4 separate regions of the Homo sapiens genome follow, and all the other regions are linked to region 3. Evidence: fine-mapped expression QTL. A gene starts in region 3. Each other region holds a variant in brackets. All regions are shown on one strand. Distances are between the middles of the regions.

What was found. PIP is the estimated chance that this variant, and not a neighbour inherited with it, causes the effect.
Region 1: its variant is fine-mapped to the expression of LGR4 in whole blood (TOPMed, PIP above 0.99).
Region 2: its variant is fine-mapped to the expression of LGR4 in testis (GTEx, PIP 0.95).
Region 4: its variant is fine-mapped to the expression of LGR4 in whole blood (INTERVAL, PIP above 0.99).

What each region holds. Positions count from the first base shown.
Region 1 is chr11:27,450,894-27,454,893 of GRCh38, forward strand. All of the region lies in intron 1 of LGR4 (leucine rich repeat containing G protein-coupled receptor 4), which reads right to left. Among named protein-coding and RNA genes, the nearest start is that of LGR4-AS1, 19 kb to the right of the region's middle. The variant G/T (reference allele first, on the strand shown) is at 1,866.
Region 2 is chr11:27,324,614-27,332,840 of GRCh38, forward strand. No RefSeq gene overlaps it. Among named protein-coding and RNA genes, the nearest start is that of CCDC34, 34 kb to the right of the region's middle. The variant C/A (reference allele first, on the strand shown) is at 3,882.
Region 3 is chr11:27,470,625-27,476,844 of GRCh38, forward strand. LGR4 (leucine rich repeat containing G protein-coupled receptor 4) reads right to left here and starts at 2,166. Exons shown (of 18, transcript NM_018490.5): 1 at 1,494-2,166. The coding sequence starts at 1,678. It overlaps LGR4-AS1 (LGR4 antisense RNA 1), which reads left to right and starts at 1,107. Exons shown (of 4, transcript NR_131170.1): 1 at 1,107-1,208; 2 at 2,154-2,333; 3 at 2,544-2,572. RefSeq lists silencers at 1,280-1,339, 1,590-1,759, 1,890-1,939.
Region 4 is chr11:27,642,866-27,651,092 of GRCh38, forward strand. All of the region lies in intron 3 of BDNF-AS (BDNF antisense RNA), which reads left to right. Among named protein-coding and RNA genes, the nearest start is that of LINC00678, 12 kb to the left of the region's middle. The variant C/T (reference allele first, on the strand shown) is at 3,818.

The DNA.
Region 1 (4,000 bases), 21 kb before region 3:
TCTTCATAAACCTTTCAATTTCTCCAACAAGTCTGATACCCTGGGACAAAATAATGTCCAGTGGCAGGTTATGTAATGATCTATATACTACTTCCAGGATTACTATTTCTAGGTTATGTAAGGATCTATACTATTTCTAGGACTCCTTACAAAAACACTTCTTAAAAACACTACAGTTTTTAGTATTCACAACTAAATGAACGGTACTTTTCAATACTTAAAACTAAAGTTTAAAGAGTCAACTTTTATTTCCAAAGTTAGCACAATTTTTCACTTAAAATAAGGAAATGTTAAATTTAAAGAGACCACCAGAGAACTGTTTAGAACCATTTAGTTTGGAACCATAACTTCAGACAAATGCTTCACACCACTATTTTAATGAAGAGTACCCACCAGACATCACTTAAGAACTGAGGCCTAAGTCACTATATCAAAGGTATAAATTATGGTCCAAAGACAGCGCCAGGCACTGCTGAGCTTGGAATTGCTTACTGAGCAACCAAGTTGTTTCAAACAAACTAAATGTTTTAAGGAGGCTAAAGGGCAGTGGAGGCAATTATTGGAAGGAAATTTCTCACTAGGCCAGAAAGGAATAATTAAGTCTTTGCATGCTAAATCACATCACTGGGGTTAACAATGAAGTAATCAAGTGTAAATGGTGACAAAGCCCATCTACAAGACTCATGAAAGGAAATTAAGGTTGTGGGTAATCTAGACTATTGTTGCTTAAATACCACAAAAATTAGTCCCTAAAACTTCATTCATTCATCCCCTGTTTAGATAAATGTGTGTGCTTTTAGTGGGAGGCAAGAAATTGGTTAATCCAGTAATTAAGGCAAATATACTGAATCATCAGAAGTAAAACACCATTCAGCTACTAATTCACAGGCAGAGATCCAAGGTCATTCCTCATACTAAGACTGTACCAAGCACTCAGTAATAAAATACTTTCATAATAGGAGAGCCATGTCCATTCCATTCAAAAATATGATTCAAACCATTTAAATTATAAACCTAATGCATAATTTGCATATTGTACTTTCTCTGCTTTAGAACATAAAAGAGAATTCACATACACACATACATAGCTGGGGGGAATGTGGGCATGAAGCTGGGGGAAAAAATGGACACCCACGTAATCTTCCAACAATTGCTCAATAGCAAATTAAAACTGGTTATGCTCTCAGGGAGCAAAATAATGTTGATGTGAAAGTTAAAAGATCTAGATTGAGACTCTGGCTCTGCAACCTCAGGCTGTCATCTTACCTCAGAGACTCAGTTTCCTCATCTTCTTTAAGGGGTAAGGCCATGGCTAAGACTTCTCAGGACTCTCAACAGATCTGGTATGTTTGTTGTTGTTATTTTAAAAAATGGTTTAAGACTCACTAGAAGTTGCAAAACTAGTGCAGACAGTTCCTGCATACCCTTCACCCAGCTTTTCCCAATGGCAACATCTTACATAACCATAATATATCAGCTAAACCGGGAAATTTACTTTGATGCAACACTATTTACTAAAGCTACAGACCCTACTCAGATGGATTCATGTAACTACCACTACAATCATGGTAAGGAACTGCTCCACCACTGCAAAGAAATGCCCTCCTGCGACACTTTTCTGTCGCATCATTTTCCTATCTCCAACCCTAGCAACCACTGGTCTGTTCGCCAACACTATAATTTTGTCATTTATAGTAAACCTGGAATCATACAGTATACAACTTTTTGAGTTTTTTTTTTTTTTTTTTTTTTGAGACAGAGTCTCTGTCGCCCCGGCTGGAGTGCAGTGGCGCGATCTCGGCTCACTGCAAGCTCCGCCTCCCGGGTTCACACCATTCTCCTGCCTCAGCCTCCCGAGTAGCTGG[G/T]ACTACAGGTGCCCGCCACCACGTCCGGCTAATTTTTTTTTTTTTTTTGTATTTTTAGTAGAGACGGTGTTTCACTGTTGAACTTGGTTTTAATCACTCAGCCTTAATACCGTTGAAAACTATCCATAGTCATGTGTATCAATAGTTTGTATACTTCTGTGTAATAGCCTGTTGTATTGACATACCAATTTATTCTGCCACATTGACTTCAAACCTTTTTATGTTTTTTCTTTTATCTTTTATTTTCTTTTTTAATGTTCCTACATGCACAGTGACTTTTATGTTTAATTAAGTTGTCACTATGGGGTAGGGAGAAACCTTTTTTTTTGAGACAGGGTCTAGCTCTGTCGCCCAGGCTGGAGTGCAGTGGTGCGATCTCAGCTCACCACAACCTCCACCTCCCAGGTTCAAGCAAATCTCCTGCCTCAGCCTCCCGAGTAGCTGGGATTACAGGCGCCTGCCACCATGCCCAGCTAATTTTTGTACTTTTAGTAAAGACAGGGTTTCACTGTGTTGGCCAGGCTGGTCTCGAACTCCCAACCTCATGATGTGCCCACCTCGGCCTCCCAAAGTGCTGGGATTACAGGCGTGAGCCACCACGCCCGGCCAAGAGGAACTTTTTAAATTTTGTTTTGCCATTGCTTAAGATGGATTCATATTCCTATAGATATTGACTAATTATCTTAATATCTAAATTTCATTCCAGCCTTCCCTGGCTACCCTACTTTAACAGCAAACCACCTTCATCTTGCTTTATTTTCCTTGATGGTATGTAACATTACCTGACCTTTTATATTCATTGTGCTTATTTACTGTCTACCACTAATCCCCCACCCCCCTGCCAGGTAAGTTATAGGAATGCAAGGATGGCATCAGATACTGTTCAATTCTGTGTCCCCAGCACCAAAAACAGTCCCTAACACATCAGACACTTAATAAACAAATGTTGAACAAATTAATTTTTAAAGTTCTGACTTATTATCTCAGTAAGTAATTATTATTTTAAAGTTGAAAGAGTACTGATTCTGTAAACCAAAAATAAAATTCTAAGGGCCCCAGCCTTCTGAATGGAACCCTCCTCTTGGCCAAAGGCATTCCAAAGTTAACCTGAAAAACTAGTTCAGACCATGATGGGAAGGGGAAGTTGGACATGCCTCATTATATCCTACACCCTTTTGGAATTTAGTAAGAGCCAACCAGCATTAGCATCAACACAGACCTGAAGACTTATAAGAAACATTTATAATACAATCTATTCTCTTTGAAGCCTGCTACCTGGAGGCTTCATCTGCATGATAAAACTTTGGTCTCCACAATCCCTTATCATTGGAACTCGGACATTCCTTTCTATTTATTCCAGGCTTTTAGATAAAAACTAAACTCTTTCAGCCAATTGCCAATCCGAAAATTTTTAAATCTACCTATAACCTGGAAGCTCCCTGGCTTCAACTTGTCCCTCCTTTCCAGATCAAACCCATGTCATCTCACAGGTATTGATTGATATATTATGTCTCCCTAAAAAGTATAAAAGTAAGCTGTACTCCAACCACGTCTTCAAGACTGTCTGTGGCTGTGTCACAGGCAAGTCCTTAGCCTTGGCAAAATAAACTTTCTAAATTGATTGAGATCTGTCACAGATACTTTTGGGTTGACAATTCCATGAACCATTATACAAATATTTGTAGCTCTCAAAGAATAGTTTGAATAAATAAAATTATTGGCCGGGCACAGTGGCTCATGCCTGTAATCCCAGCACTTTGGGAGGCCAAGGCAGATAGATTGCCTGAGGTCAGGAGTTCGAGACCAGTCTGGCCAAGATGGTGAAACCCTGTCTCTACTAAAAATACTAAAACTTAGCCAGATGTGGTGGCATGCACCTGTAATCCCAGCTACATCAGGGGCTGAGGCAGGGGAATTGCTTGAACCAGGGCGGTGGTGGTTGCAGTGAGCCGAGATCATGCCACCTGCTCTCTAGCCTGGAAGACAGAGCAAGACTCTGTCTCAAAAAAAAAAAAAAAAGCAAAATTATTTGCATTAAACATTTTTATTCACCTCCACAAATTATCTCCTACAATTTCAACAAAGTACTGAGCCCATGGAAAACTGGGAAGACAAGGAAGAAGCACAGGAAATTT
Region 2 (8,227 bases), 150 kb before region 3:
TAGAGACACAAAAAACCCTTCAAGAAATCAATGAATCCAGGAGCTGGTTTTTGAAAAGATAAACAAAATTGATAGACTGCTAGTAAGACTAATAAAGATGAAAAGAGAGAAGAATCAAATAGATGCAATAAAAAATGATAAAGGGGATATCACCACTGATCCCACAGAAATACAAACCACCATCAGAGAATACTATAAACGCCTCTACGCAAATAAACTAGAAAATCTAGAAGAAATAGATAAATTCCTGGACACATACACCCTCCCAACACTAAACCAGGAAGAAGTTGAATCTCTGAATAGACCAATAACAGGCTGTGAAATTGAGGCAATAATTAATAGCCTACCAACCAAAAAAAAAGCCCAGGACTAGATGGATTCACAGTCGAATTCTACCAGAGGTACAAAGAGGAGCTGGTACCATTCCTTCTGAAACTATTCCAAACAATAGAAAAAGAGGGAATCCTCCCTAATTCATTTTATGAGGCTAGCATCATCCTGATACCAAAGCCTGGCAAAGACACAACAAAAAAAGAGAATTTTAGACCAATGTCCCTGATGAACATCGATATAAAAATCCTCAGTAAAATACTGGCAAGCCGAATCCAGCAGCACATCAAAAACCTTATCCACCACGATCAAGTTGGCTTCATCTCTGGGATGCAAGGCTTGCTCAACATTTGCAAATCAATAAACGTAATCCATCACATAAACAGAACCAATGACAAAAATCACATGATTATCTCAATAGATGCAGAAAAGGCCTTTGACAAAATTCAACAGCCCTTCATGCTAAAAACTCTCAATAAACTAGATATCGATGGAATGTATCTCAAAATAATAAGAGCTATTTATGACAAACCCACAGCCAATATACTGAACAGGCAAAAACGGGAAGCATTCCCTTCGAAAACTGGCACAAGACAAGGACGCCCTCTCTCACCACTCCTATTCAACATAGTGTTGGAAGTTCTGGCCAGGGCAATCAGTCAAGAGAAAGAAATAAAGGGTATTCAATTAGGAAATGAGGAAGTCAAATTGTCCCTGTTTGCAGATGACATGATTGTATATTTAGAAAACCCTGTCATCTCAGCCCAAAATCTCAGGCTGATAAGCAACTTCAGCAAAGTCTCAGGATACAAAATCAACGTGCAAAAATCACAAGCATTCTTATACACCAATAACAGACAAACAGAGAGCCAAATCATGAGTAAACTCCCATTCACAATTGCTTCAAAGAGAATAAAATACCTAGGAATAAAACTTACAAGGGATGTAAAGGGCCTTTTCAAGGAGAACTACAAACCACTGCTCAATGAAATAAAAGAGGACACAAACAAACGGAAGAACATTCCATGCTCATGCATAGGAAGAATCAATATCGTGAAAAAGGCCATACTGCCCAAGGTAATTTATAGATTCAATGCCATCTCCATCAAGCTACAAATGACTTTCTTCACAGAATTGGAAAAAACTACTTTAAAGTTCACATAGAACCAAAAAAGAGCCCGCATTGCCAAGACAATCCTAAGCCAAAAGAACAAAGCTGGAGGCATCACACTACCTGACTTCAAATTATATTACTAAGCTACAGTAACCAAAACAGCATGGTACTGGTACCAAAACAGATATAGACCAATGGAACAGAACAGAGCCCTCAGAAATAACACATCTACAACCATCTGATCTTTGACAAACCTGACAAAAACAAGAAATGGGGAAAGGATTCCCTATTTAATAAATGGTGCTGGGAAAACTGGTTAGCCATATGCAGAAAACTGAAACTGCTGAAACTGGACCCCTTCTTTACACCTTATACAAAAATTAACTCAAGATGGATTAAAGACTTAAACATAAGACCTAAAACAATAAAAACCCTAGAAGAAAACCTAGGCAATGCCATTCAGGCCATAGGCATGGGCAAGGACTTCATGACTAAAACACCAAAAGCAACGGCAACAAAAGCCAAAATAGACAAATGGGATCTAATTAAACTAAAGTGCTTCTGCACAGCAAAAGAAACCACCATCAGAGTGAACAGGCAACCTACAGAATGGGAGAAAATTTTTGCAATCTACCCATCTGAAGAAGGGCTAATGTCCAGAATCTACAAAGAACTCAAATTTACAAGAAAAAAACAAACAATCCTATCAAAAAGTGAGCAAAGGATATGAACAGACAATTCTCAAAAGAAGACATTTATGCAGCCAACGGAGACATGAAAAAACGCTCATCATCACTGGTCATCAGAGAAATGCAAATCAAAACCACAATGAGATACCATCTCATGCCAGTTAGAATGGCAATCATTAAAAAGTCAGGAAACAACAGATGCTGGAGAGGATGTAGAGAAATAGAAACACTTTTATACTGTTGGTGGGAGTATAAATTAGTTCAACCATTCTGGAAGACAGTGTGGTGATTCCTCAAGGATCTAGAACTAGAAATACCATTTGACCCAGCCATCCCATTACTGGGTTTATACCCAAAGGATTATAAATCATGCTACTATAAAGACACATCCACATGTATGTTTATTGCGACACTATTCACAATAGCAAAGACTTGGAACCAACCCAAATGTCCATCAGTGATAGACTGGATTAAGAAAATGTGGCACATATACACCATGGAATACTATGCAGCCATAAAAAAGGATGAGTTCATGTCCTTTGCAGGGACATGGATGAAGCTGGAAACCATCGTTCTCAGCAAACTATCACAAGGACAGAAAACCAAACACTGCATGTTCTCACTCATAGGTGGGAATTGAACAATGAGAACACTTGGACACAGGGTGGGGAACATCACACACCAGGGCCTGTTGTAGGGTTGGGGGCTGGGAGAGGGATAGCATTAGGAGAAATACCTAATGTAAATGACGAGTTGCTGGGTGCAGCAAACCAACATGGCACATGTATACCTATGTATCAAACCTGCACATTGTACCCTAGAACTTAAAGTATAATTTAAAAAAAAGAAAAAAAAAGCATCAAATTTAATTAGGCAAATCAATCTAGCCAGAGAAAACCAACATATGTCTAGAGTTCCCTTACAGAATTCATTTGGAAGATTTCTGCAAAATCACAACAAAGAAACTGATTGCATTAAAGCTTCTAAATCCCATAAAGCATCACGTATTGGAAAATGTGTAACATCACATAATTTGTCAGTAGGCATATGCTACTGCTGTTATTAACAAGTACACAAAATGATTTATTAAGCATCTTCTATGTGTCAAATATTGTATGAGGTACTTTACATGGTTTGTTAATCTTTGCAATCACCTTATGAAGCAAGTATTATTAAGCGCATTTTTTAGAAGAGTAAACTGTGCCTTAGAGAGGTTAAGAGACTTGTCTAAGTTCCCACAGCGTAGGTAGTAGATCATGTATTTTGTTTGTTTTTTGAGACGGAGTTTCACTCTTGCTGCCTAGGCTGGAGTGCAGTGGCACGATCTCGGCTCACTGCAACCTCCAGCTCCAGGGTTCAAGTGATTCTCCTGCCTCAGCCCCTCAAGTAGCTGGGATTATAGGCGCCCGCCACCACTGCCAGCTAATTTTTGTATTTTTAGTAGAGATGGGGTTTCATCATGTTGGTCAGGCTGGTCTCGAACTCCTGATCTCAGGTGATCCACCGGGCTCGGCCTCCCAAAGTGCTGGGATTACAGGCATGAGGCACTGTGCCTGGCTCAGACCATGTTTTTAACCTCAGGTGAGTCCCTACAGCTCTCTTGAGCCAGGGTGCCTCTCAGCAGAAACTGGGCTTGGCCCAGAGGAAGGCTTCCTGAAGTCAGTTGTTTATGAACCACCCACTCTTTCAAGATGGGAATGACATTGTCCTCACCACCTTTACTAGAGATAAGCAGTGACCAATGTTCA[C/A]ATACTAAAAACACAAAAAATGAACCACACAAAATAGAATTTTTAGGATAGAAACGGGCCTTTGACATCAGCCTAACATCTTCATTGAACCAATAAACCGGTGAGCATTTCCTCTATTTTATTGAGAGATATCTTTCAAGACTTACCTTTTAGATTTACCTATGTAAGCACTTTGCATCTCAGCCTATACAAAGGGAAGAAAACTCTTGGCCCAGGGAGAGGGAGTTGCAGACTGGTATGTACTGGATGGTTGTTTTGGTAAATTTTTCCAACTAAGAACACATTCCACTCCCACGCCACCCTGTGCTGCCACCACCAGAGAAACAATGATAGTTTCCATCTCCAGCTGCCCCTCAGGTGGTTCCCAGGGACATGAAACAAGGAGGAAGGGAGAGGCTCTTTCTTTTTCCAAGGTCATACGCGCATTCTATCAGCTAAGAGCCCAGGAACGAGAAAAGGGAGAGGTGGCTCTGTTGTTTCTAGCAAAGGAAAGGGTAGTGTTCCCTCTGACTTCTGCGCATAAGGCATAGCTTTCTCCCAAATGACAGATAATTGAATATTTTCCCTTCTCAATTTTAAAAGGTAATTCAAGATACAATTGCCCTTTCTGAAAAATTTGCTCTCTTAGGCAGACTGCCATTATCAATAGTAGTAGGTAAATATTCACTGTAAAGTAACTGTGTTTTTTCCCTCAAGCCAACATATGAATTTAATTTATGATATTAATGACCACGGCAAATACATGAATATCATTTACTATATTTTTTTTGGAGAAAGAAAAATTAGTTTTTTGTCATAAAGTGTATTACTATTTTTTTTTTTTTAGAGCTTGAGAAAACACTCTTTTTTTCCTTTTCAGCTTTTATTTTAGACCCAGGGTACATGGGCAGGTTTGCTACCTGGATATATTGCATGATGCTGAGGTTTGGGGTATGAATGACCCCCACCCGCCCACCGAGGTACCGAGCATAGTAACCAACATTTAATTTTTCAACTCTTGTCCCTCTCCCTCCCTTCCCCCTCTAGTCATCCCCAGTGTCTACTGTTCCCATCTTTATGTCCATGAGCACTCAATGTTTAGCTCCCACTTATAAGTGAGAACACGCAGTATTTGGTTTTCTGTTCCTGTATTAATTCACTTAAGATAATGGCCTCCAGCTTCATCCATGTTGCTGCATAGGACATGACTTTGTTCATTTTTATGGTTGTGTAGTATTACATGGTGTATATGTACCACATCTTCTTTATCCAATCCACTGCTGATGGGCACCTAGGTTGATTCCATGTCTTTGCTATTGTGAATAGTGCTGTGATGAACATATACACATGCATGTGTCTTTTTGGTAGAACAATTTGTTTTCTTTTGGGTATATGTCCAGTAATGGGATTGCTGGTTCAAACGGTAGTTTGCCTTAAGTTCTTTGAGAAATCTCCAAGCTACTTTCCACAATGGCTGAACTAATTTACATTCCCACCAACGTGTATAAGCATTCCCTTTGCTCCACAGCCTCACCAACACCTGTTGTTTTCTGACTTTTTAATAATAACCATTCTGACTGGTGTGAGAATGGTATCTCATTGTGGTTTTGATTTGCGTTTCTCTGATGATTAGTCATGATGAGCATTTTTCATGTTTCTTGGCCACTTGTACGTCTTGTTTTGAGAAGTGTCTGTTCATAACCTTTGCTCACCTTTTAATTTTTTTTTTTTTTTTTTTTTGCTCATTCAATTGTTTCAGTTACTTACAGATTCTGGATATTAGACCTTTGTTGGATGCACAATTTGCAAATATTCTCTCCCATTCTGTAGGTTGTCTATTTACTCTGTTGATAGTTTCATTTGCTGTGCAGAAGCTCTTTAGTTTAATTAGGTCCCATCTGTCAATTTTTGTTTTTGTTGCAATTGTTTTTGAGGACTTAGTCATAAATTCTTTCTCAACATTGATATCCAGAATGGTGTTTCTGAGGTTTTCTTCTAGGATTGTTATAGTTTGAGGTATTACATTTAAATCACAGTGTAATTTGTTAGTGTAACATAACTACTGTATTCTTGATTCACCTAGGCCTTAGGTATCATAATAAGCAAGTCCATGAAAGAATAAGCTTTGAATTGCTAATTAGATCATTAGCAATTTATTTTCAAAATAAGAAGCCCCATCTTTATTACTCTGAGGCCACAGATGGCCTATGTTTGTCATCAAACCTCAAAGTATATTTTCCCATAGAATGTTAAATATTTTCTTTACAAATGACCAGGATTTTAGAAATTTCCTTTGTAACTTTGTAGTAATGTGTCAATATATACAAGCATCTGAAAGTCCCTTTGATGTTCAAAAGCTGTCATATCACCTATCCTTGGAATCTGAAAGAAAGAAAGGTTACATAGGGAACCACCAGTGTTCTAAGTCCATTCCTTACTCTCCAGCCTCCAAAATTATTAAATTCTAAGTTTTGTTTATTCGGGTGCCTCAAGCCTGAGTCTCAGCTTAATCACTTTGTCCCAGAAGCTTTTCCTGACTCCAACAAAGGTTAGCTACCTCCTCATATGCCCTCACAGCTTGTGCTTTAAGGTAAGTATGGCTTTAACTGTAATCTCTGCTAGAATGTAAATGCTAACAGATTCAGGATTAGTTCAGTCTTGTTTACCACTAGAATCCCCAGATTCTAGCATAGTGCTAGGAATTCAATACATACTAGAATGCCTTGCTCATTCTACCTGACTGCTTGCACAGCATTTGATATTCTAGAAGACCTTCTACTTCCCCTTCCTGAAAGCTCCCCTCTCTCACTGTGGCACACTTTCCTCTTTTGCACCTCCCACCATTTTCACTGGTCTTCCAGTGGCTTCTTTCCTTCTGCCTTACCTTTATACTCAACCTCTACATTCCATCCTAGTCTATCTTTTCTGGGCCAAATATGGCAGGCACTTAATATGGGTGGAATGAAGGAATAAAAGAATGTCATGCTTCAGACTCTTCTTGAGAAATGCTATTCACCTCCATAGTTTCAATGATTATGTTAAACTAATAAGGTCTAAATATTCCCAAAACTACACTTCTCATCTGGGCAACAAACCTTTATCTGTAACACCCCCTTATGTCAATATGTTCATAACTAAATTCAGGATGTCCAATTAAACATAGCAGATTAATCATACAGAATTATCTCCTTTCCCACTCCAATCTCTGCTAAGATGATGGCAAAGGAATTTCTTTTAAGAAAAAATGTACAAATCCACAAGGGCAAACAGAAGAGAATACAATGGTTAACCACAGATTCCTACAAATTTTGGGATGGTGCAGAGAGGATAGAGGTGAAACAACTGACTTAGGAGAGTACTGGAGTTAGGACAGTATGGATGTAGTGTTTTTCCTCATCTTTAAGGACATTAATGATAGTTGCAATTTTTTTTCTTCTTTCTTAATTGGCTCTGTTTCCTCTGAGTGCCTTTTTTTTTTCTTTTTCTCTTTTACTGTTTAAAGGTTTCTAAATGCTGAAATAAATACAACAACAACAACAAAAATTCAGCCTGCAGAATCCTGGAAGGGCTCAGCATAGGGGAACACTAGCTACTAAGGAGAATGAAGCTTATACACTAACTAGCTAGACTGAAAACACAGGAAGTGACAGTTTACCAAGAAATGAACTGTGATATACAGAACTACATTCCCAGGTCCTACTCCGGAATGCTGGCAGCTAGGCTTATATCTCTCCGGAAGATTAGAAGATCCTTCTCTGAGAAAATGAACAGCCTAAGGGGGAAAGACTTCCAGGTATTTGGAAGTCTACCCACAACAATAAAAAATCCACCATCAACAAGCCCTACCTATGCCCACATAGCTTCTATTCAGCCTTTTAATGCCCTATTCTTAAATAGGAACAGACAGGAATTCATATAACAAATATAAATGTCAGACAAGGATTAAAAAACGTTTGAGGAAAACCTCTAATAAAACCTCAGAAAAAGAGAAAATGAAGAAAAAAAGGCATCTGGAAGAAACAGAGCCAATTAAGAAAAAAAACTGCAACTAATGTCCTTAGAGATGAAAAAAGATATTGCATCCATAAAATAAGTATAGGAGGCTATGAAAAAGGAATAAACAGAAAAGAATGTTTGGAATTTAAAATAAGGTAGCCATAAAAAAATTATTCAAGAATTGGAAAATAACATCAAGGACTTCTCACAGAAAGTGGTCTCCCTCACCAGGGTAGGGGGAAAAAAGTAAGACAGGAGAAAAATATTTCCTTTTAAATTATTAGAGAATTAATTCAGGAAGACCAGTAATTGCCTAACAGGATTCTAGAAAAAAGGGACCAGAGAATATTATGAGAGGAAATTATCAAATA
Region 3 (6,220 bases):
TTCCCACTTAATGTAACTTTATGAACAAAATGCTCTTCACTGCAAAGTTAACTTTTTTTTTTAATGACAAGTTAAACTTCACTATACTGAAAAAAAAAAAAAACCTCAAATACATAACTAAAACTAACCTGAGACAGGAAAAATAACAAATGGGGAGGGGAAGGCTGAAGGTAGAAGAATGAAACAGGTTCCAAGACAACAGGCCTCGATGCTCACTAAAAGTCCATCCTGAGAGGGCAAGCGGAACACCTTTGCCACCACCCACCTGGAAATACAGCAATGCTCCTGCCTGCATAAAGATTTCTTCACAGGGTCCTTTAAAACTGTCTATTTCTAAGAGGTCCCTTCCACTACAGGTAAAAGGAAATTCCCTCTACCCTAGGGCCCCTCAGGATCCCTTCCTCTCTCACACGTTTCTTCGACTGCTCCTGATTTAAGCATTCAGCTGGCCACGCAACGCAAGAAGCAATAAGAACACAAAAACCCTACCCTGTTCCTCCTCTATCCGTGGCCTTTGCCACCACCTCCACAACCTAGTTCAGATTCCTCTTCTTTTCTCAAGGGAACGTCTAAAGCTCTCAAGTCCGTTTTGGCAGGGCGATTTTGTAAGTCTGAAACATTTCAGTGTGTCTCTCGATCTCAGGCAGCTCAAAAGAAAAGATCTGCTGGCTGCGTGAAGGTGCATTAGAAACCTGCTGCTACCTTGCAGCCTGGGCTGAGCATATGCTCCGGAACTTGCTTCTCTTCCAACATCCTGCACCTCAGGTCAGCATTCCTTCTTTAAAAGGCCTTGTTGGGTAAGAGCATGTCCACCAACAGAACCCTGTAATTCTCCCTTGTTTTCTCGGACTCCCCTGCGTGCTGCAGAAGCCTGGGCGTTAGTGGGGTAGTCCCGAGTGGAACTGGGCCGAGGTAGGTGCCGGGACGCACTACCTGGATGGGGCCAAATTGGAAGGAGATTCGCCCTGACTGAGGTACAGGTGTTTCTTCTCCCCACATGCTGGAACCCAGGAGGCTCCAGGTGCTTCCCCACGAGACATGCCTCGGTATGCAGACTGAGGCCAAGTTCTCGGCGCCCTCAGCCCCGCCAGTAGCGGAACTCCTGCCCGCTGAGCGAGGGCCCTCATGAGAAGGGAAGGTCGCGTGGACAGGCTGCCAGGGGCAAGCGTTTTTAGATTACTTCCTCCTTCTTGGCCCCAGATGCACTTGTGAGTTGGGGGTGTGCGCGGTGGGGTGGGAGGGTGCTTGTGCCCAAAAAGTCTGGGAACGAAAGCTACTGCTGGCTCGAACCCGGACTAGCAAAGTGCGGAAAGCCCGTGGCACAGGAGTGGGTGCCAGGCAGCCCGCACGCAGGTGACCGGCGGACCCCCTCCCCAGGCCCGGGCGGCGGCGGGGCGGGGTGGGGTGGGACTGACCCCTGGCTCCGCCCCGCGGCGCCCCCCGCTGGGCCCCGTTTCCTCCCCCCCCCTCGCGTCCCCGCCGCCCGCACTCACAGCGCTTGGGTGAAGGCGCTGAGCCCCTCGGGCACGGCCGTCAGCCCCTTCCCGGAGCAGTCCACCCGACGGTCGCCGTCGCAGCTGCAGGGCGCCGCGCAGAGAGGCGGCGCCGCGCCGCTGGGCCCGGCCGAGCCGAGCAGCCCCAGGGCGAGGAAGCAGAGCAGCCCTAGCGGGCCCGGCATTGCTGCGGCCGCCTCCCGCGCCGGCCTCTCCCGCGGCGCTGCTCGCTCCGCTGCCCTCCGATGTCCCCCGCCGCCCCCGGGCAGCCGGCCTGCGGGCTGGAGCGGGGGTCTCTTCCTCGGCGGTCCGCGCGGGCTCGGCCCCTTCAGCAGTCCGCCGCAGCGGCGCAGGGACGCGGCGCTCCGGAGTTTCGCCCTTCCCGCTGCTCCATGGACGCGCAGAGGCAGCCCCGCTCCTCCGGCGGCTCACGCCAGCCGGGCCGGCCCGGCGCAGCGGCGGGGGCCGCGCTCTGCCATCGCACCGGTCTCCCTGTCCCTGGCCTCTCAATGCAGCGGCTCTTCAAGGTTGCAGAGCGCAGCCTTCAGCCATGCCGGCCACTCGCCCCAGCCCCCGCCGTGGCTCTCGCACAAACACCCAGACTCTGGCTCGCTGTCTCCCAGCCGCGGCTCAATCTCTTCCCGTCCTTTTCCCTTCTAGGGTTGCACGCTCTGGTTCCCAAACCCCCGGCCGCTGGCTTATGCAAATCACTTAGGTACATGCAAAAGTATCCCTTCTCCCGGAGCGCCATTGGCCCGGGGAGGTCTCGAGCTCATTACTATGCAGAGAGGAGAGCCGCCATTGGCCAAGAGGAGGACCAGAGGGGCGTGTTTCTCGGGCGTGAGTGACAAGGTGGTGGTGGTTGTGGTGGTGGCGGCGGTGGTGGTGGTGGTGGTGGCGGCGGTGGTGGTGGTGGTGGTGGTGGTGGTTCAAGGCAAAATCTTGACTTGGCTGGATTTGTCTGGCAGGTTGTGGATTGAAGGTAGAAGGATAGTAGGACAAGGGGTCTAGTTTTTCCCTCCCCCACCCGTCTTTTTGTTCCCTCCGCAGAAATTGGATCTCCTAAATTGGATGACCTGGTAAGTAGAACTTCCCTCCAGCGTTCAGTTAAGTTTTAAATGACTCTCCGCTGTTCCAAAGGGCGAGGACGTCTGGAGCTCTGCAAACGGAAAAAAGATTTTGAAGAGGAGGAAAAAAGTTTCCCTCGATCTGACACACATCTTTGGGTTTTAGCTATACACTAAGTTAAAAGTGTACCCTCTCCAGTGCCTCACTTCACCTGGGATCTTTACACCTATCTTGATACACATTTGGTAGCTAAGTCTTAGCAATTCATTCTCCCCAGTCCTCTCTCTGTATTTGGTGTTTTTGGTGACTGCAAATTAGACTCCTTTCTCACGCACTTTAAAATCCTGAAACACAGGAATTTTGTAAAAGGTCAGAGAAAGTGATGTTTCTGAACACTGGACAATTTCCAAAACATCTGAGTGGGAGGTGACTACGGCTGAGAAGCCAGCAGCAACGTTGGTGTTAGGTAATTATCAGCATTCCCTCCTCTTCTGGATTTTGAGTCCCTGTGGCCTAATAGACCCCACGGAATCATTACCTGTACCAACTACGGCTTTAAGGGTACTTCGTTTCTTGCTCTCTGCCATGGCGTTGAGTCGTTTTACTCTATAATGGAGACATTTTTAATGAATACATTAAAACAAGCAGGATTCGGCCGGGCGCGGTGGCTCACGCCTGTAATCCCAACACTTTGGGAGGCTGCGGCGGGCGGATCACCTGAGGTTGGGAGTTCTAGACCACCCTGACCAACATGAAGAAACCCCGTCTCTACTAAAAATACAAAATTAGCCGGGTGTGGTGGCAGATGCCTGTAATCCCAGCTACTCGGGAGGCTGAGGCAGGCGAATTGCTTGAGCCCGGGAGGCGGAGGTTGCGGTGAGCTGGAGATCGCGCCATTGCATTCCAGCCTGGGCAACAAGAGCAAAACTCTGTCTCAAAAAAAAAAAAAAAAAAAAAAAAAAAAAGCAGGATTTAAAGATAATTATCATATAAAGTTGACTAGCCATCGTATGTAAATAAAACTTAGGACAATGGAAACAGGTTGATGCAGACCTATAAGTTTAAAATGAAAAAATTTTATCATCTTTGTATTTGGGAGTTTATCTAAAAGATAATGTCAGGTTGGGCACATAAGTCACATACAGTAAATCTGTCTAGAAGCTAGAGAGTTAATAAATAAACATATGCCTTCATTTCAAGTTTTAGGAATGACATATCTCCTCTCACTGCAGGGCTGAAAGACAACTTAAAGACCCCCAGAAAACTCTGGTTTTATAGATAAGAAATCTGAGGCTCGAGAGAGAGTGTGTTCTGCCCAACATCATCACGGAACAGCTCCTGGGCTCCTGGCTCCTAATCTGGTACTCTTAGAGCCTTCCCTAAATAGGCTTTCATCGTCTAAATCATTTCCATTATTTTCTAGCAACTGTCATGAACAAATAAGGAAGAAATTGTAAAGTTAGTTTCTGTAATCGTTTCTTTAAGATCTCTTCTTTTTTTTTTTTTTTTTTGAAACGGACTCTCACTCACTGTGTCCAGTGGCGTGATCTTGGCTCACTGCAACCTCCACCTCCCGGGTTCAAGTGATTCTCCTGCCTCAGCCTCCCCAGTAGCTGGTATTACAGGTGCCCACCACCATGTTTAGCTACTTTTTTTTTTTTTTTTTTTTTTTTTTTTTTAGTAGAGATGGGGTTTCTCATGTTGGCCAGGCTGGCCTCAAACTCCTCACCTCAAGTGATCCACCTGCCTTGGCCTCCCAAAGTGCTGGGATTACAGTCATGAGCCACGGAGTCCGGCTTATATGCAAATCTTGATTAAAAATGCAGAATGATTTAGTAGGCCTAAGTGGGGCCCAGAAACCAGCATTTTGTTGCACAGCAAGTGAAAGTGACACAGGTGATTCATGAACCACACTTGGAGAACTTTATTCTTTGTCTTCAAATAATAAAATCTTATGGCTGAAAACTTAGGTGAAAGGAGAGATTTATATTTTGAAAAAAGGGGAGATGCAGATTTTACTAAAAAATAAATTCCTATTGTCTATTAGATGACAAATGTAAGAAAGGAAGATTCAAATTTGCAGCTTAGCCAAGAAGATAAAAGATCAGGAACAAAAGACTTGGGTAGGGAACAGAAAAGATAAGATATATTGAAGTGTTTGTATTTCTTATTTGGTACATTTTGTATGCTTTGCATTAGAGATACATTGGTCAATTAGTCTCCATCTCTTGGATAAGATGTCCCAAGAAAGTATAAAGACAAAAAACAAAAAACCAGTGATTAAGGTAATATCTCAGATAACTAGAGAAAAATGATCAGCTCTTAAATAAATCATAAGGACTGGAAAGATACTGAGATAAACCAAATAAAAATTGACGGCAAGCAAAAAATAATAGGGTCTCTGTCTACAGATCGGTTCCTCTTAAAGTTTTCATTGGTTGTGTGTAAGTAAATTTGCGGCATCCACAGGCTAGATAAAAAATAGAACTGGGCTGCAACCCCTCTGCATATGTGGCATGGAGCTTATGGGCCATGAAGAAAGTACCCTATCGTAGTGATACTTGCCTTGGTGTCTTTGTGCAGAGCACACAGGACTTGTTGACTGATGGATAAGCTGGACTTCGGTTCTACCACCCCTTTACCCAAGAACTCTTGTAAACATAGAACCTGAACAAGTATATGCAGAGGCCCTACCTGTTGGGTGAACGGTTCAAGGTGCCCTGTTACAACAACAGCTCAGATACAGTGGGGGCTCTGAGTGCTGTAATGATTGACTGGATAAAAGTCCTCAAACATGTAGAATTTCACTTTTTATGAACTATTTCGACTTAGAAAAAGAGTTAACAGCAATCAGCTTAAGAAATATTACGAATGTAGTTGAAGCTCCCTTTGTACCACTCCCCAATCATATTCCTTTTCTTCCTCTCCCTGAGAAGTAAGCAGTTTCCTAAACTTTGTAGTTAATTCCCATGCATATTTTCATGCTTTTCGTATGCATGTATCCCTAAACAATAAACAGCATTGTTTTTCATATATAAATCAACATCATTGCGTACTGTTCTGCAACCTGCTTTTTCACTCAACCTGTGAGTGTAATCGACATTCACGAACTATGAGGCTTGTAACTTCATTTTTATTACTATATAATATTCCACTTAATGAAATGCCCAGTGTGTTAGGGTTCTCCAGAGAACAGAACCAATAGGATATATATAGAAATACAGAAAGAGATTTATTGTGAGGCACTGACTTATACAATTATGGAGACTAAGTGACAATCTTCCATCTACATGCTGAAGGCCCAGGAAAGCTAGTGGATTTGTTTTAGTCCAAACTTGAAGGCCTGAGACCCAGGGGAGTCAATGATGTTTTGGTCGAAGTCTGAAGGCCTGAGAACCAGGAGCAGTGAAGTCTGAGGGGAAGAGAAGACAGATGTCCCAGCTCAAGCAGAAAGCAAATTTATCTTTTCACTCTTCCACCGTTTTTTGTTTGTTTGTTTTTTTAAATGGTGTTTTGTTTTGTTTTGTTTTTGAGATGGAGTCTCTCTCTGCGGCCCAGGATGGAGTGTAGTGGTGTGATCTCAGCTCACTGCAGCCTCCACCTCCTGGGTTCAAGCGATTCTCCTGCCTCAGCCTCTCAAGTAGCTGGGACTACAGGCA
Region 4 (8,227 bases), 170 kb after region 3:
TGCAGAGGAGAAGACCAAAGCTGAAAGAAGTGAGGGGAGACCTGCTTAGCTTATGTGGCTAGAGACGTACAGAGCAAGGTCAGGGATTTCAATCTGCTGACTCGAGGCCCATGTTTTCACTCTGTACATGCTCATCCTTATTTTCAAAGTCTCCAGTTCAAAAATTCATCTCTTTGCAGTCACATATACTGAAGGGAATTCTGCTTCACAATGCCTGGAGGAGCTTCAAGTGGAATGTGTCCAAACCAGGAGGAAACAATTCCCTTGGTTCTCCTCTGGATGTCAGTGCAGGTTGGTGTGCAGTGAAGGTAGGGGTGTGGAAAGCTGGCCAATTCCACTTTACAAGTTCTTTATTCTCTCATACCCGGGAAGTACCACAGCTACTGAATTCTTGGTGAAACCAGAACCTAAAACAGTAAAAGTGGAGTTGGGAACCTGGGGAAGCAATACTCAACCAAGCCAAAACTAAGATTGCATATTTACATAGAATGGCTGTAGCCATGTTGTTCTTCACACTCACAAAGTGAACACACAGCTCAAGGCTCAGTGGCCAGACTATGTGGTGGGGGTGGGATGTGGCAAGATGTGCATGCATGTGAAAGAACAGTGTAAACTCTAAAACATCTACAACAGGGAAAAGCAAAAAGAAATCCGTATTTCTCCCTCTGATTATCTTGGTCTCTCTCTTCTGTCATGGATTAGACCCAGAGAAGAATACTAGTCCAAATCTCCAGCAACTGTTCATCATTTTTAACCTTTCCTGCCTGGTAAAATAACCTGGGAGCTTTGAAAATAATATTGATGCCTGAGCTTCACTCCCAGAGATTCTGATTTACCTGATGCAGGGATGCAGGATGGGGTCTACAATTCATAATTTTTTTAAAACTCCCCAGATGCCTAATGTGCAACTAGGGTGGAGAATTACTCAATTAAACTATCAAGTTGCTTTCCCTGACTGCTGGGATCCCTTCCTTGGCTGCTGCAAACAATGTTGTAGCCACTTAGGGCTAAATACACTTATAATGTGGCCTTACACTGCATTCATTCAATTTAATAGACACTTGTTGACTGCTTTCCGGTACATGGCTAGGTGAACTGCAGTGGGTACACAGGTGAATGAAAATGTCCACTGCTCTAGAAGAGTTTATACAAATAACTGCAGCTTAGTAAGGGAGCAATTATTTTACCCAAGAAAATGCTAAAGGCTTCATGCAATTGAACCTTTAACATATAGAAACATTTTTTATATTCATAGAAAATTCATTTGTTAAGAGAAACCTGCCTAATCGAAAATTTGCTTTGATAAGTCTACCATGGTATACAAACAAGCCGTGGACTAGTGCCTAGGTTTGAAAAGTGAAAGCTTCTCTGCATAATAGAGTGAGAGCAGGTGATCAGCACTAAATGCTGTGTAGGGAAATGGTCAAAAGGACACTTAATGACTTTTAGAGATGGGATCTCAATCTGTCACCCAGGCTGGAGTGTAATGGCATGATCTTAGCTCACTGCAGCCTCAAACTCGTGGGCTCAAGTGACCCTCTCGCTTCAGCCTCCTGAGTAACTGGGACTACAGGCACATGCCACCACACCCAGCTATATATATATATTTTTAATTTTTTTGTAGAGACAGGGTCTCGCTATGTTGCCCAGGCTGTTCTCAAACTTCAGGTCTCAAGCAATCATTTTGCTTCAGCCTGCCAACGTGTTGAGATTACAGGCCTGAGCCTCCATGCCCAGCCATAAGGCCATTTTTAATAAGAACTGTTAAAAATAAAATGTCAATTATGGAATGTAAACTTCATTTTCACATTTATTAAGAAGTCTTCCATAAAATACACATTGCTCATTATTCAGTGAGAGTGAATTGTGTATGAAAAATTCGAAGAAGTGCTAAATCCCACCTTGAGATGGCAGAAGAAAACCAGAGGGTATACATGGGGCAACTGCCTGATGTGTGGGTTTGCTAGATTTTACAATTAAAATTGCAGGACACCCAGTGAAATTTGAATTTAAATTAATACAAATCATTTTTTACTATAAATATGTTCCATAGAGTATTTGCACACACTTATATTAAACAATTATTCATTTGGTTTGATGTTTTTTCTGGCAGCCCTATTATGGGTTATGGTTGGGTAGGGATTTTATAATCAGAGAGGGAGACAGGGAATGGACAAAGATGCAGAGGAGGTAGAGTGTAAGGTACATTTAGGGAATAGGGAGAAGTAGGGTTGGAGTGCACTGTCAAGTGTGTTGGAAGTTGTCTGGACATTAAAGTAGGAAAATAAAGCTACATCCTATAAGGCCATAATGCCAATATCACCAATTTGTTACTCTGTCAGCAATGGATAGCCCTTTGATATATTAAAGGGAGGGAAATCATATGCTCTATTCATCCATTCATCTATCCATCCATCCATCCATCCATCCACATTAATGTATCTGTATCAATATGGCACACTTGAAAAGCATATGTCCTCTGAATTTATATTCTAGTTCTGCTATATGCTCACTGAGTGATCTTCTGCAAATTACTGCCTCTCTCAGCCTCAGTTACCTGAAAAATAGGCATAATTAGATCTACATCTTACATCTCTCATCAGGTTTATCACAGTGACATACAATTGCCAAGCAGGCAAGTCCACCTTGAATGCCTTTTTGACTCGTTTGAGGGTTCCAATACTGTGTGTGCCAACTTAGACCATTATTTCCCAGAAACATTCCTCTTAGTCTATCGATTTCATTCCCTTGCAATGCACTGGCCTTTACACCTGCATAGTCAACAGTGATTAAAGACAGCATTTCTGTCTCTCCTGCCACATCGGTACATTTGTGTATAGGTAGGTGTTGCTATTTGTGTAACGTATTACGAAGTGTTTTCATGTTCATTATTGTCATTGAACCTTCAGAGAGATCATTCTGCTATCATGGGAGGATGTTGGAAGTGGGTTGGGGTAGAGAGATTGGGGGTAGAGAGATGGGTTGGAAGGCTGCTGTGATAGCCCAGGCGAGATGCAATGAAGACCTGAACCAGAGTAGTGGAAAGGTGAGCTGAAAGTGAAAGGAATGGATGAAAACAAACGGCACAGAAATAAAAACAAAGGGAAGTTCTGACACCCGCGTTTTGGTCTCCTTGACATTGCTTCCATTTCCTCTAGGGACATGTCCTGGATAAGGGTGAAACTGGATGCTCCTTGGCAGTTTCAGATGTCACCACCCCTAACTTTCCATTGGATAAAAGAAGGCCCAAAATAGCCTCTGGTCCCATAGGCTAGTGATTACTGGGACTCAGATTCCTGTCCTGAAAACACGGGGAAGAAGCCAGGCATTTGCCCACTTACCCTCTCACCAGCTGACCCAGGGCATTAGCACCCTGGTGCCTGCTGACGCAGAGCATCTGCCAAATTCGATTAGCCCCGTGGCCTGGCTAAGCTGGGCATGTCCTGCACTGCTTCTAAAACAAGCCCTCCAGGAAGGGGCTGCGAGACTCGGAGATGTTTTTTCCTACTGTCAAGCAGGAATCACTGCTTGGCAGTTTGAGGTAGGGATGGGGAGGAGATAAAAATATTAGAAGATGCAGAAGATAAAACCAAATACTAATCTAACAGTCACTTCTGAAAACAGAGAAAACACTCCAAACAGTCAACATGGATTGTTTTTTTTTCTCTTTGCTTCAACTTAGTAAAGCCCTTTGGAGTCCAGCAGAATGAGCCAAGCAGTGTGAAATGTGTGGAAACATGTTGTTGGCTCAGAGCAGGTTGCTTGGAGGCGGGACAGGTGACGACCTGCCTGTGAGAAGCCCATAGAGCTCTCTTCT[C/T]CTCACCACTGGGTCAGTTGATCCTCATCTGTAGATGAGAGATCCTCATCTGTAGACTCAGCCCTCCTGCAGCCATTAGTGCCTCTCCTGTTTCTAATCACAGGGAATCTAAAGAAATTTAAGGAGCCTCGTTCAGGAGCTCAGTGTTAGATTGAGCTTTCTGGTGGGTCCATTCTGACTCTGAATGTTGATTTTACTATCTAAAATCATTATTCTTGTTTCTATGGCTAGGGTCCTACTTGTATTCAATTTCCTATAGAACTAGCGTCCTGTCTTGTTAATTCCCAGTCATTAGAATCCCACACCCAAGTTTGGGACCAGGTTAGGGCTCTGAGTCCCATGGGCAGAAATCTCTGATACCTCTGACTCCTGTTTACCTAGAGGAAGAAGAATCTGGAGCAGCAGTTCTACCCTGGCTGGTCAACAAAACCACTGGAAAGATCTTTAAGAAATACAGATGCCGGGCGCGGTGGCTCACGCCTGTAATCCCAGCACTTTGGGAGGCCGAGGTGGGTGGATCATGAGGTCAGGAGATCGAGACCATCCTGGCTAACAAGGTGAAACACCGTCTCTACTAAAAATACAAAAAATTAGCCGGGCGCGGTGGCGGGCGCCTGTAGTCCCAGCTACTCGGGAGGCTGAGGCAGGAGAATGGCGTGAACCCGGGAAGCGGAGCTTGCAGTGAGCCGAGATTGCGCCACTGCAGTCCGCAGTCCGGCCTGGGCGACAGAGCGAGACTCCGTCTCAAAAAAAAAAAAAAAAAAAAAAGAAATACAGATGCCTGGGCCCCACCCCCAGAGATTCTGATTTACCTCGTCTGGGTATAGATATATTTTTTAAATTCCCTATGTGATTCAAATGTACAGGTCAGGATTGAGAGCCACCAGTCTGGTGGTTAAAATTCGAGACCTTGGGATTATATAGATGTGGCTTCAAATCTGACTATATCATTTATTAACTGTATGACCTTGGGCAAGTTATTTAGGCTACTGTGTTGTCAGTTTTCTTGTCTCTCAAATTACATCTATCTCATGATTATTTTAGATAGCATGGAAAGCATTTAGCATGGCATCTGGTACAAAATAGGGATGTAACAGTATTGCCTATTGCCAAACACTTGTCCTTGTGTTCAACCAATTGCTAGGGTAATCTTACCCTTTACTTGATTTACATATGATTCTTTGCATATGGATCGTCTGTCTGAAACCCATCGATAGAACTCTTTATACTCATTATAGAACATTCTTCACCCTTTCGCATCTAACTTCTGCTGAACTCAAGGGACACATCAGTCCTCAGCACCTTGACTTTACTACCTGATCTACCCCATCACCAATGGGATCTGTTCTTAAGAAAGTGGGAAAGCCAAGATAGCAAACTGAGTTCATCTTTTGGTTCAATTCAATTCAGTTGGCAGTGGAGCATGACCTTGACATGACTTGTGAGGCTGAGGTGCAGCAAAGACTTACAAGTGATGTCAGCCATACATGGAAGAATGGGGGAGAGAAGGCTGGCGCTGGTGGCCAGGGCTATTGCAGACCCAGCAGGCCTGAGTCATTATCCTTTCTCTTCTCCACCAATCCCAAACACAAAATAACTGTAAAGTATTGACCTAGGGAGGATTGGGCACTCCTGGGTCTTGCAAGTGGTTCCACAACACTCTGCCTATCTGCCCAATCCCAGCAATTCACAGGAAGCTCATCAGATTGTCCATGAGGTTAAAGGGGTGACAACTGCCCCATATCCAAGTATTGGAAATAGCTGACATGAAGCTCTAGAAACCCTACATTCAGGTTTTTCAGCACAGAGTAGGGTTGTATCCACTTTTGGAAAGGCCTCCATGCAATGAAAGACTGTTTGCATGTTAACCTTAAAAGATCAATCCAGGACTCTTCTGAAAGCTAAAAATTCTAAGCACCACTGGTGGTCTCCCTTTTTGAAGGAAGCCAAATCCCTTGGACATGTAACTAGCTATTCCACCCCCCTCCCCACAACCACGGCCTTTTTTTTTTTTTTCCTTCTGTATGTTCTCAATGCCCTTTGCACTTTTAAATTTTTCAGTGGTTTAAGAGTGGCTCCAGATCCAGGCTGCCCTGCTACTCACAAGTGTTGCAGCCTTTGCCAACTTAATTGAATTCTCTGTGCCTTAGTTTTTTTCATCTCTAAAATGGGAGTACTAAAACTACCACCTAGTTTATGGATTGTTGTGCAGTGAGAAAATCTGCATAAGATGCCTTGAACACTGCCTGCTTATAGTAAGTACTAGTCACTATAATTGTGCAATGGGTTAAATGTATGTCAAGGACATGGGGCAGAAGTTGAGGTAGGATTTTCCTGATGTGCCATGTCTATTTTTAGAAATGTGACTGTGGCCCCTTGTTTCTTTCAGACTATGTGAGTTCATCCATTTCACCCTGGCTTCAGTCATTGCCATTCAGCTGGGATAGACACTTAGGAATAATGGGCTTCATTTGGAATGTACAGTCTAGAAAAACACCCTTTATTGTAGTATATCTCTTCCATTTGCTTGAGTGTATGTAGTGGCCACAGTTTAACTGCCAAGCAGTATTATTGCTAGTGGGTAAACAAGAGTTATCTCTCTGAGTCTTCCAGAAAAGACAAAGTGACCCTGGATGCTAATGGCACAGATGAGATGGGATCTCTTCCAGGAGTCTGAATATGAGAAAAGAGTCTCTGAAGTGTGTACTAGATGAGCCCAGCTTATTACCAGTCAGCAGAGTGACTTCCAAGAGTTTGTAAACATTTTCTGAGGCTTTCTCATGGGTCTGTAACTTTCCTAAGTGCTTTATATGTATTACCTCATTTAATTGTCACAAAATCCCATGAGGTAAGTGGGAATATTTTTACCTGTCCTTTGCAGGTGAGGAACTGAGGCACAGAGAAGTTAAGTGACTTGCCTACAGTCACACAGCTCTTGTAGCAGAGTTGGGATTCAGACTCCACTCTTTACTATATTATGTGCCCCCTGAGTGGTGAGATGTTGGATCCCAGAGGAAGCAGAGCTCTGAGGTCATCAGGAAGGAAAGCAGGGCATGAAGTGGGAGCAGAGGTGGATTGAACAAAAACATAGATTTCTCAGAGATTCAGGCACAAAGGACTCAGGGCCAGGAATAAACCAAAGTTGGATTGCTGAAATGAGGAGTTTCAAACACTGGCATGCCAGTGAGGTTTGTCTCCTAAGCTAGCCAAAGCTCCACTCAGAATGACCTCTTTACCATTCTGAAATATCTGCTGTTTCTCTGAGGAAATCTGCTGCTGAATGTGGTGTTGCTGTGATTTGTTATGAGATACTTTTGTTCTCAAGGCCATCCTCTCAGGAGGAGGAACTATCCAGAGTACTCGGGAGGTGGTGGTGAAACAGATTGGGAACCGTACATCCTTGGTGAATTTATAAAGCCCCAAAGAACAGAGATGCAAACCCATTTCATTCAAAGAGCTCTGTTAACAGTGACTCTACAGGATGCTAATCCAGCAGTTTCATGCAGAGTTTCCTGACCCTGCAACTTGGCAAAACACAAGGAATCTCTCCTTGCCAGGCACCATGTAATACAGTAAGAATGAGTGACATAAAACAAAGGTAAATACATTGCCTGGCTTTGAAAGTAAGGTTAGACCCTGGTAGAAAATTTGCATCTTGAGGAATATATGGGCACCTTCCCCAAGGTATTTTCTGCCTGCTTGTCAGACAGTTGGTAATATTTTTATAGTTGCATATGAAGTAGAAACCTTCCTTTGGTCACATCCTCCCCAACCGCCACACTAACCCAAGGTGCCTCCTGCTTTTAATCTTGTGGCAAGTACCATGATATAAGGACACCAGCTATGGAGGGAGGCAGGAGATGCACAGTGAATTATCTCAGAATGCTTCCCAGCCTTTAAGTGCTTCAGAAACCTCTTTAATCTCTTTTTATGGCAAATAATGAAGTAGGAAGAATGAAATTGTAATATTAAAACTGAAATTTACCTCCAAGACCATCCTCTTGGGAGATCCCCCAAGTTCACCCTCTTCCTCTGACAGTTGAGGGCATGGAGGTTCAGATACCGGAAAGGGTTGGCCAACCTGATGATTGAACTACCAAGATACCTGGCTCCCAAGGTAGGCTTGTTAGAATTCAGGCTTCTGTATTGCCTAATGGATGGGTAATACATTTGGACACCCTCCCCTCCATCCTAGAAATAGAAAAATCTTCTAATGCAATTTGCCTTGTAAAATGTGCAGGAGTGTGCACACACACATACACATACACACAGAGATGGGAATAGCTATGTTCAGGTCCTCATTTCCAGAAACCAGTTCCTACAATATAGAAAAGCTTTGCCACAAAGTCTGAGGAAGCCCTTTGTATTTATAGTCTGGTCATTCTAGAGGTGTGAACCTAGATTTCCTCA